3 separate regions of the Homo sapiens genome follow, and regions 1 and 3 are each linked to region 2. The links come from fine-mapping of genetic effects on gene expression. A gene starts in region 2. Each other region holds a variant in brackets. All regions are shown on one strand. Distances are between the middles of the regions. Region 1 overlaps KIZ (kizuna centrosomal protein). Region 2 holds the start of KIZ (kizuna centrosomal protein). Region 3 overlaps KIZ (kizuna centrosomal protein).

What was found. PIP is the estimated chance that this variant, and not a neighbour inherited with it, causes the effect. A credible set is the group of variants that fine-mapping cannot tell apart.
Region 1: its variant is the best candidate, but not a certain one, in a credible set for the expression of KIZ in whole blood (TOPMed, PIP 0.56).
Region 3: its variant is the best candidate, but not a certain one, in a credible set for the expression of KIZ in skeletal muscle (GTEx, PIP 0.60).

What each region holds. Positions count from the first base shown.
Region 1 is chr20:21,242,470-21,245,232 of GRCh38, reverse strand. KIZ (kizuna centrosomal protein) reads right to left here. Exons shown (of 13, transcript NM_018474.6): 12 at 945-988. Among named protein-coding and RNA genes, the nearest start is that of KIZ-AS1, 26 kb to the right of the region's middle. The variant C/T (reference allele first, on the strand shown) is at 1,533.
Region 2 is chr20:21,124,929-21,127,691 of GRCh38, reverse strand. It overlaps KIZ (kizuna centrosomal protein), which reads right to left and starts at 1,610. Exons shown (of 13, transcript NM_018474.6): 1 at 1,488-1,610. The coding sequence starts at 1,576. RefSeq lists enhancers at 1,092-1,141, 2,042-2,141 and a silencer at 1,302-1,881.
Region 3 is chr20:21,214,919-21,217,681 of GRCh38, reverse strand. KIZ (kizuna centrosomal protein) reads right to left here. Exons shown (of 13, transcript NM_018474.6): 9 at 2,034-2,099. The region is part of intron 1 of KIZ-AS1 (KIZ antisense RNA 1); the gene reads left to right. Among named protein-coding and RNA genes, the nearest start is that of KIZ-AS1, 2.0 kb to the left of the region's middle. The variant G/C (reference allele first, on the strand shown) is at 1,196.

The DNA of each region.
Region 1 (2,763 bases), 120 kb before region 2:
CAGCAGCTCTGAATCAGTTTCCATACTGGGTTAGCAAAGTGGGACATACTGGGGCTAAATAAACAGCGAATATTTTTGTTATTGTCAGTAAAACTATTAATCAAATTATACCTTTAATTTAAGGTATAAGGGGTTTAAGGAGACAGGAGGTGAGAGAGCCCAAGCTGGGCAGGGGATATGCCACAGTGTTATGGTAGGAGGGCTAGATTTTTCCCGTGAGTTGGGTGTTGAAGGATGAATAGGAGCTCACTGGGCTGAGGAAAAGGAAAAGGAACTCCCTACAGAAGGAACAACATGGGCAAAGGTACAGAGGCATAGGTGTGCTACAGCTGAAAAAAGCTGACTGTGGCTTGACCCAAAGAGGCGACCTTGGGAGGAATAAGCTGGAGAGCAGGGCTGGGGCCTCCCAGGAATGGAGAAAGCTCAGACTCTACCCTGAAGGTACGGGGAGGCATTGGCCGTCCTTACACAGGAAGGTCGGGGGAAGCCAGGGTTTGGAGGCTGGTGGCCAGGTGGAGGAGCTGGGAGTTCCCAGGAGCTGGGAGGAACTGGGTATGAGGAAACCAGTTAGAGTTACTCCAAGAGCCTGTCCGGTCATGAGCAATGGGTGCTTCTGAGGATGAGGAGAGAGGCAAGAAACATTTCATTGGTAAAATACAGGGTGCTGATAATTAATTAGACATGGAGGCCAGGATCCCCTGCAAATTCATACTTGCAAATTACAATGCTCTGCCCCTGTGGTCCATGGCACCCGTGTGGTCCTGTCTGTGAAGAACTGAGCCTCCAGAAGCCCTCAGGTTCCACCCCAGGGACAGCTGCAATGGCAGTCCCTGTGAGCATGCCCGCTTCAGGACTCACATGAGGGTGCAAACAACAAATGCATGTCACAGAGTTTTTTGGTTAAAACAGAAAAAGAAAATCTAGTGTCCGATTATCTCTCTCACCATTAGATTTTAAATTGATCACGGGTTTCTTTTTGTTTTCATGCCTGCAAAATAAAGAAACAGTCTAAGTTCTGAAAAAGAAAAGACAATGAGACTAATATTTTCATAATGAACGCATTAGAGAAGAAGCACTTTGATTCACTGGAGGCCAGAACTTTACACTTACTTCCCAGAGTTTAAAAGTAAAGGGAAAATATCGGGATGCAGCGTGGCCTTGTCGGGAGGGTCGCTACTCAACAGCATTGCTCCCGTCCTGCGTGTGTCCCCTCGGCAGGTCTGCATGGCCCACCCCGCCCTGCTGAGCTGTGCCTGTGTGGGGCCACGTGTTCTTGGGGGAGGATGATCGCATGTTCCCCTGAGGCAGGGGACCGGTTTCCCTCAACAGTCTTCTGGAAGACAGTGATGCATCAAACTTCAGTGCTTTCAGGCAAGCTAAAAATGAAACACTTGCAGTAGGGAATTCAAGATGTTGGTAAGGAAGTTAAAATACTTAGTCAAACCAGTGGCAGCAATACTAACAGTTAAGAAAGGAGTTCAAAACAAACACCTGGTAGAGGGCCCTGCAAGTGTCACATAAATGCTAGTGTT[C/T]GTGGCGTCCAGGACCGTCTCGACTGAGGCCAATATGACAAGAAAACTGGCTCCACGGGATATGATTTCTCTGTGTGCCTTTTCAGGAGCTTTTGCAATTTTAATGAATTTAAAAGTCTCCTCAGGGAGTGTCACTCGAATGTTTTATGATGCTGAGATTCTTTCAGAATTGCCTGAATGGTCACAGGAGATGTTGGGAGAGAAACCATTCTTGGTGCATGGCTCGACACTTTGCCCTACCCCACGCACCACCACCGCCCTTCTCACAGCCAGGGCCTTGTTCTTCTGGACACAGGAAACCCTGCAAATATATCTTTTCCTTCCCTTTGGGCCAAGTGTGGTTGACTTTTGGCTTAAAAATCTACGTTTTGCTATAATTTACTTTTTTTTTTCAGAAAAACATGCTCCACTAAGGTATCATTTTCTAGGCTACCTTTCAGTGTTCCCTTTAAATTTAGTGCCTGTTTCTTTAATTGCCATGACTGAGTAGTGCTCACAGCCATTTCTCCATGAAGCATGGAAGACCCCTACGAGCATCTGGAAAGGCCAGCAGCTGACTGACAGTCCTGGAGCTGCCAGGATTGTGGGGACCTGTCAGTGAGGTGAGCCTGCAAGAACCCATTTTACAGAAAGTGACACACACATCACACACACACTAAATGCAACTGCAGGGATGTCTATTATTTCCCCACCTCCCCCTACCTGAGGACACTGGGCTAGGTGCTGCAGGGGAGGGTGGATTATAAAAATGCTAGGAGGGGTGGAAAGAGGCTAATTTGCCAGCCGCGGTCCATACAAGAAGAGCCACAGGGGGAGCAGGAGAGATCTCTGCCAGCTGGGTGGATGGAGAGCACTGTGGCAGGTGATTGGGGGAGCTGCAGGACCACAGAGGAAGCCCGGCACCTCCAAAGGCAGAGGCCTTCACAGGACAGGACTGGGGAACAAGGTGTGGCGGGGTGGGGCAGCAGGGAGCCCCTGACACAGGAGAAAGGACACAGTGGCAGGTGAGCTCAGCTCCTCCCGTCTCAGCAAATGGCACCCCTGACCCACTAGTCTCCCCAAGCCCCTCTCCAGTCTCCACTCCTCTTTCCTTCACATCCAGTCTGGCCCTCGGTCCTGCCAATTCCACCCCCACCCCTCTCGACCCCCCTGCAATACTTCCTGCAGTCCTCACCAGTTCCCTGGGCACTGCCAGTACACTGGTCAACAAAACTATCAGCTCTTGCTTCTC
Region 2 (2,763 bases):
CAGTGTGCATTAATTTGAGTTAGTTATAAATTCTTAAAATGAAAAATGAACACACACAGCAACAGATTTGTACTGACTTAAAAATAAAACAAATCTCGAAATGCAGAACCGTGAACAGGCTATAAAATTTGATTCACATTCCTTATATATTTTCAACAGCCTCACCTTGTTTAATAATTAAATAAGTGTTAATCATAAAGTACATAATTATTATACAGTTATTGTGCCATAAGGACTATAAACAGCCAGGTGTTCCTAGCACAGGAAACAAAAATAACTTACAATTAATAGTTCAAAAAGAATGCCATTTATGAGTGCTGTAAGAATGCCAAGAGTCACAAAAGTTAGGGAATGGGTTGAAACAGGGAAGGCTCTACAGGAAGAGATTTCTTTTTAAAGTCAGAAATTAAGAGGTCACTGATATGGGTGAGCGGTGACATGTCAGAAAGAAAATAGGACGTAGAAAAGGAGTACAAGGTAAAAAAAATGCTAACGACAATTAAGGAAGCCTGTTGTAGATGCTCTATAAATATCTGACAAGAATTAAATCTAGCGTAAGATAAATGTAATTCCTTTTCAAAATCGCTCACTTCTGCCTTTATTTTCCATGTAATTATTGTTATCATTTTAGCACTGTCACGCACACAGCTCTCCTGTTCACTAGAATGATTTTGTAACTTTTAACACTCATTAAATGTTTTGTTTATCAAGAGATCCAAAAATGTATTTCCTTTCTTGTCAACTAATGAGAGTTACAACTCCAATTAACTTAGCAGCTAAATAAGAGGTCCAGCAATTTATCTTTTACGTGGTTATTCATAGTACATTGCGGTATAATTTTCTCTCTATATGCACTCTTAGATCTAGCTGTTTTCAGTGGTTCCCATCTTTCATATCTTAATCAAAGGCATCATGAACCCTCTGGAAGCTGGACTTCTCTAGCTGGAAATTTCATCCCTTCGCTGGAAATCTAGCCAGCCCTCGCTACCCCTAAAAGTCTCCTGAGTTTAAACGGGGGCACATGTTTGACACACACACACACAACCGTCTGCGTTCCAGGACTTGTCATCATTGATGCAGTGCAGCTGTCACGGCGGGATGGCAATTTGAAGAGAGTGGGGAGGGGGCGTGTAAAAGGGGACAAGAGAAACTCACAAGGCTTGATGGAGAGTGACAGGCAGAAGAACTCCCACCTTCACTTCTGGGCAAATTCTGTGACGCGGCCGCATCCTCAAACCGTAGACCAGGCTTTAGCTGCTATTGACGGGGCGGGGGCGGTCTCTCACCTCTCTCCGCTCCCACCCCCAATACAGGGGGTGGCTCTAGTAAACACTGTCCTCCAGGCCCCACTGGGAGCCTGGGGGGCGTTGCGCGCGGGCCTGGGCCCCGGGGAACCTCGGACGGGGGAGCGGGAAGGAAAATGGGGCAGGGCACGCGGAAGACCCCCGGCGCGGGCCGACTCCCCACCCCCGCCCCAGTGCCCTTACCTGTCCCGCAGCCCGTGCTGGAGTTGGCCCAGCCTCTCGTAGTAGTCGGGACTCGACAGGGGCACGGCCGATGCGAGGGTCCGGCTCATGCTGCTGCCGCTGCGCCAGCTCAGCACAGCCTCTGGGTGGCCGTTCGGCCGGGGTTGCCGAAGGAGACCGCCCCACCATGCACCGCGGGTAAACACCGCGCCGGGCCGCCTGCAGGAGGCGGGGCAAGACGCCGTGGGGGCGGGGCGCCGCTGAGGGACGGGGCGGAAGCCGGCTTTGTGGGGGGCGGGACGAAGACCTGCATGGGGCGGGGAAGAGGCGTGGCAGAGGCGGGGCGTCGTGAGGCCGGGGCGGACCACGTCGGAGGGGCGGGCGCTCGGTGCCCTCTCCTCTCTCCCTTGACGCGGTGTCTCCTTTCCCCTCACCTTCCAGGATTCGCACAAGCTACGTTAATGTTACAAGGCGCATTCCCTCCCTTTCTTTCGTCTCTCGCTTGCTTCTTTTCCTCGATCTCCTTTCTTGCCAGGATTTGTTGAGTGCCAGGCACTGTACTAAGCTTGTTCTATTATATCAGCACTCAAAAGCGACACAAAACACCAAGTAAAAAAAGACAAACCCTCAAATGCTAAACAGCCGTGCTCAGCCCCGACAGTGGACCAACCCCTTACTCGAAAATCCGTGCTGAATCTAAGGATTGTTCCAGGTGCCAGTATCGTTGGCGAGAGGGAAAAGTTGATAACTAGTTGCTTGGGAAGCAGACGTTTGTGCAGACAGCTCTAAGGGACAATGCTCCTAATGTCCTGTAGGATCCTCTAGCAGGAGCCCGGGAGCCAGACTGCCTGGGTGTACATTCCCTATCCACGTCCCAGCTGCCAAGCCGTGTGCAAGTCACCCCAGGTTTCCTCATATGTAAAGTGGGAGGCTGTTAACACAGGATTAGTTTAGGATTCGATTGTTAATATGTGTTAGTGTTTATAAGTGGGCCCAGCACATAGAAAGCATCAGGTTTTATTATCATCACCAACGTCGGGAAAAAGCTTCCTGAAGGAAGCCAACCATATTTCAAAACCCACTGGGCAGAAAAATTAAGCCTTAGCCTGCTTCTCTGCCTTCCTTTCCTTTTTTTTTTTTTTTTTTTTGAGACAGAGTCTCACTCTGTTGCCCAGGCTGGAGTGCAGTGGCGTGATCTCGGCTCACTGCAAGCTCTGCCTCCCGGGTTCAAAAGATTCTCGTGCCTCAGCCTCCTGAATAACTGGGATTACAGGTGTGCGCTACCACACCCAGATAA
Region 3 (2,763 bases), 90 kb before region 2:
AGTATGTCTGCTTTCCCAATACAGAGGCTCAGAGAGGGTAGAGAAACAGAGCAAGGAGTAAAAGAGCTGACACTGATGGCTGGTTGCAAAGCCCCAGCCCAACTGCTACATTTCCTCAACCTTCAGGGGACAGCCTCTGGAATATTTTCTTTGGAATATTCTAGAAGGAATGCAGCCCACACAAACACAACCAGCATGCACCCACACAAACAGGACACCCCAACAGAACTATTATAAAGAGGCAGACAGACTCTGTCTTAAATTAAACTACATACTTGCTTTACTCTACCAAAAGTGAAATCTCCAAATAGTTATGCCAAAGTCACAAACATTTAATAAAGGGATGATGGTCAAGAACTTAGAGATCAAAGTAGCTGCAATGATGGACAAAGCAACAGTATTAGTAGTGCCAAGGTGCGTGAAGCTCTCAAACATGAATTTCATGGGAGGTCCCTGGGTGGGGATAGTACACTGGCAAGGACAGAACAGTAACACCTTAACAATGTGTATGGCTTTGCTAAGTTTTTAAAAAATTTCCAAAGTACTTTTTTTAATGTCTAATATTCTGGCACAAGGCATTTTTTTTAACTGCCAACTATTGATGGATCAATGGCAGGTTGCTGGAATTACAATTTCTTTTAAAATCTTAATGGCAAACAGCCCAAGTTGCTTCTAGCCATATTGCACTTCTGCATGAGAAGGGATTTGAAACCCTGGTACTTAATTATCCGTTTTCTTATAAAGAAAGTATATGAGAAAATACATTTGCATTAACTTTGGGGAGAGTCAACTACTCCCAGCAAGGGATGATTGTAAAGAATACTGAAAAGAGAAGAATGAATGAACAAGGTCATTTCCTGGTTTCTCCTCAATAATCCTTTGTAATTTTAATTGAAATAAATTCAGAGGCCATTAGATACTTCTGCATCCAAAAGTAAATGCAAGAGAAAAGTATCCAAATGACTTCATGGTTATCTGTAGTTTGGGATCATCTACATTTCTATTAATAAAAATAGCAGGGAGCCATACCAGAGTTTGCAGAAAATGCAGACTAAAAACACAATAAACATATCATTGGTGAAAATGTTTAAAATAAAAAAACTCTGCATTTTAGAGTGAAATATTATCTGAATGCATAATATATACAATAACTGCTCTACCATAAACTGCTTTTTCAAAACCAGAGTTCATCACA[G/C]AAACATGAGTTTAAAAAATTAATCATGCCAGGAACTGCACTGCCATAAAAGCAAGCCATTCTTTTCTGCTTATAAACAACAAAACTACCACATATGCAGATGCATGCCTCAGTACCTTGGTGCAATGGTGTATTTACTTGTGTAAATATTTAAAGTCAGACCTTTGAATTTATAATGAAGTAGTACACCACTTCACAAAATAAGGTACTAGTAAATTCAGATGTATGACAAGTAGAACTCTGTACAGAATACTAATTGCTGCTGTTCTTATTCTAAAAAGAAAAAAATAATGATATCGTTCAGATTCCACCTAAACAAGCCTAATACATGTGCAGAAATCTTAATAGGTCTTGATGAAGCCCGATTGGTACAATTTTTAAATTATCAGACAGGCTTTGTAACTGAGGCAAACGCAAGCTTCCTATCTGACATTTTTTTATTATCTGCTTATTTTAATATACATATGCAATTACTACAGGAAAGAAAACAGTAAAATCAGAAACATCTATAGTTTGCTGTGTAATGACCGGGTGTTCCCCAGGGAGATGGACCTTTTTACAGAGACGCAGGTGCTGAAAGGGCACATGATGGAGGATGTTACAGGTGTAAATATATAACATGGTGATGAAGAATTCAATAGACACGGTGATTTTCCACCTTAGTTTATGTTAACATAAGTATATATGTTCTGCTCTTAGGATTAATCTCCTGCTCCAGCATGCAGTAGCTGAATACATGTGCTCTTAGTGGGGTCCACAAACCACTGACCCAAAATGTTCCGCTTATATAATAATGCTAAATCTTGTGTCTGAAACTCTTAGGCAACCATAGCTTTACCTGTGATTGGGATATCTGCAGCCACATTTTCTTTCTTGCTCTTGTCTCCACAGCCACTTGAAACTTCTAAAAATTGAATGCATAATAAAAAAAAAGTATTTCAAAGTTAAGGAATAGATCCTTTGGGTGTTTGTCCTTCCCTTTATGTTCACTTTTTTTTTTTTTGGTTAATGTATTTCTTGTCTGAAACAATACTGTTCCTAAAAGGAAACCTATTCTAAAATTAAGGTATCTCATAGACAAAAATTTAAAAATAAAATTGAATTAAGGTACCACTATGCTGCTTTCACGCAAAATAACTGGGCCTGACATCTATCAAATTTAGGTGGGACATAAAATAAGTGAGTCTCACATCCTGCACATGTACATCAACTCGAGCAATTCCTGAGGAATTCATAGCTGTCTTGGAAAACCATTAAAGCAGTTAAATGGCATGTCTTAGCAGTAATGCTTAAATAATCACAGTTTCTGGGTGCTCAAAATGGGTTATTAAATTTGGGGAGCATAAATTCATTGATTCTTAATCAACTGTTTAGACACTGATAAGGTTCTATTATAATTAAAAGTAATGTTTACAATTATGAGAAAATTCTATTAGGTGATATCAAAAACTTCACAGTACTTTATGGAATCATCTTCATCTTTGAGGGATCAAAATTATCTACTGCCAAGCGATTAGTTTTGTTAAGATTTCGTAACTTCTTCATACTTATTTTATTAGAAATAAATT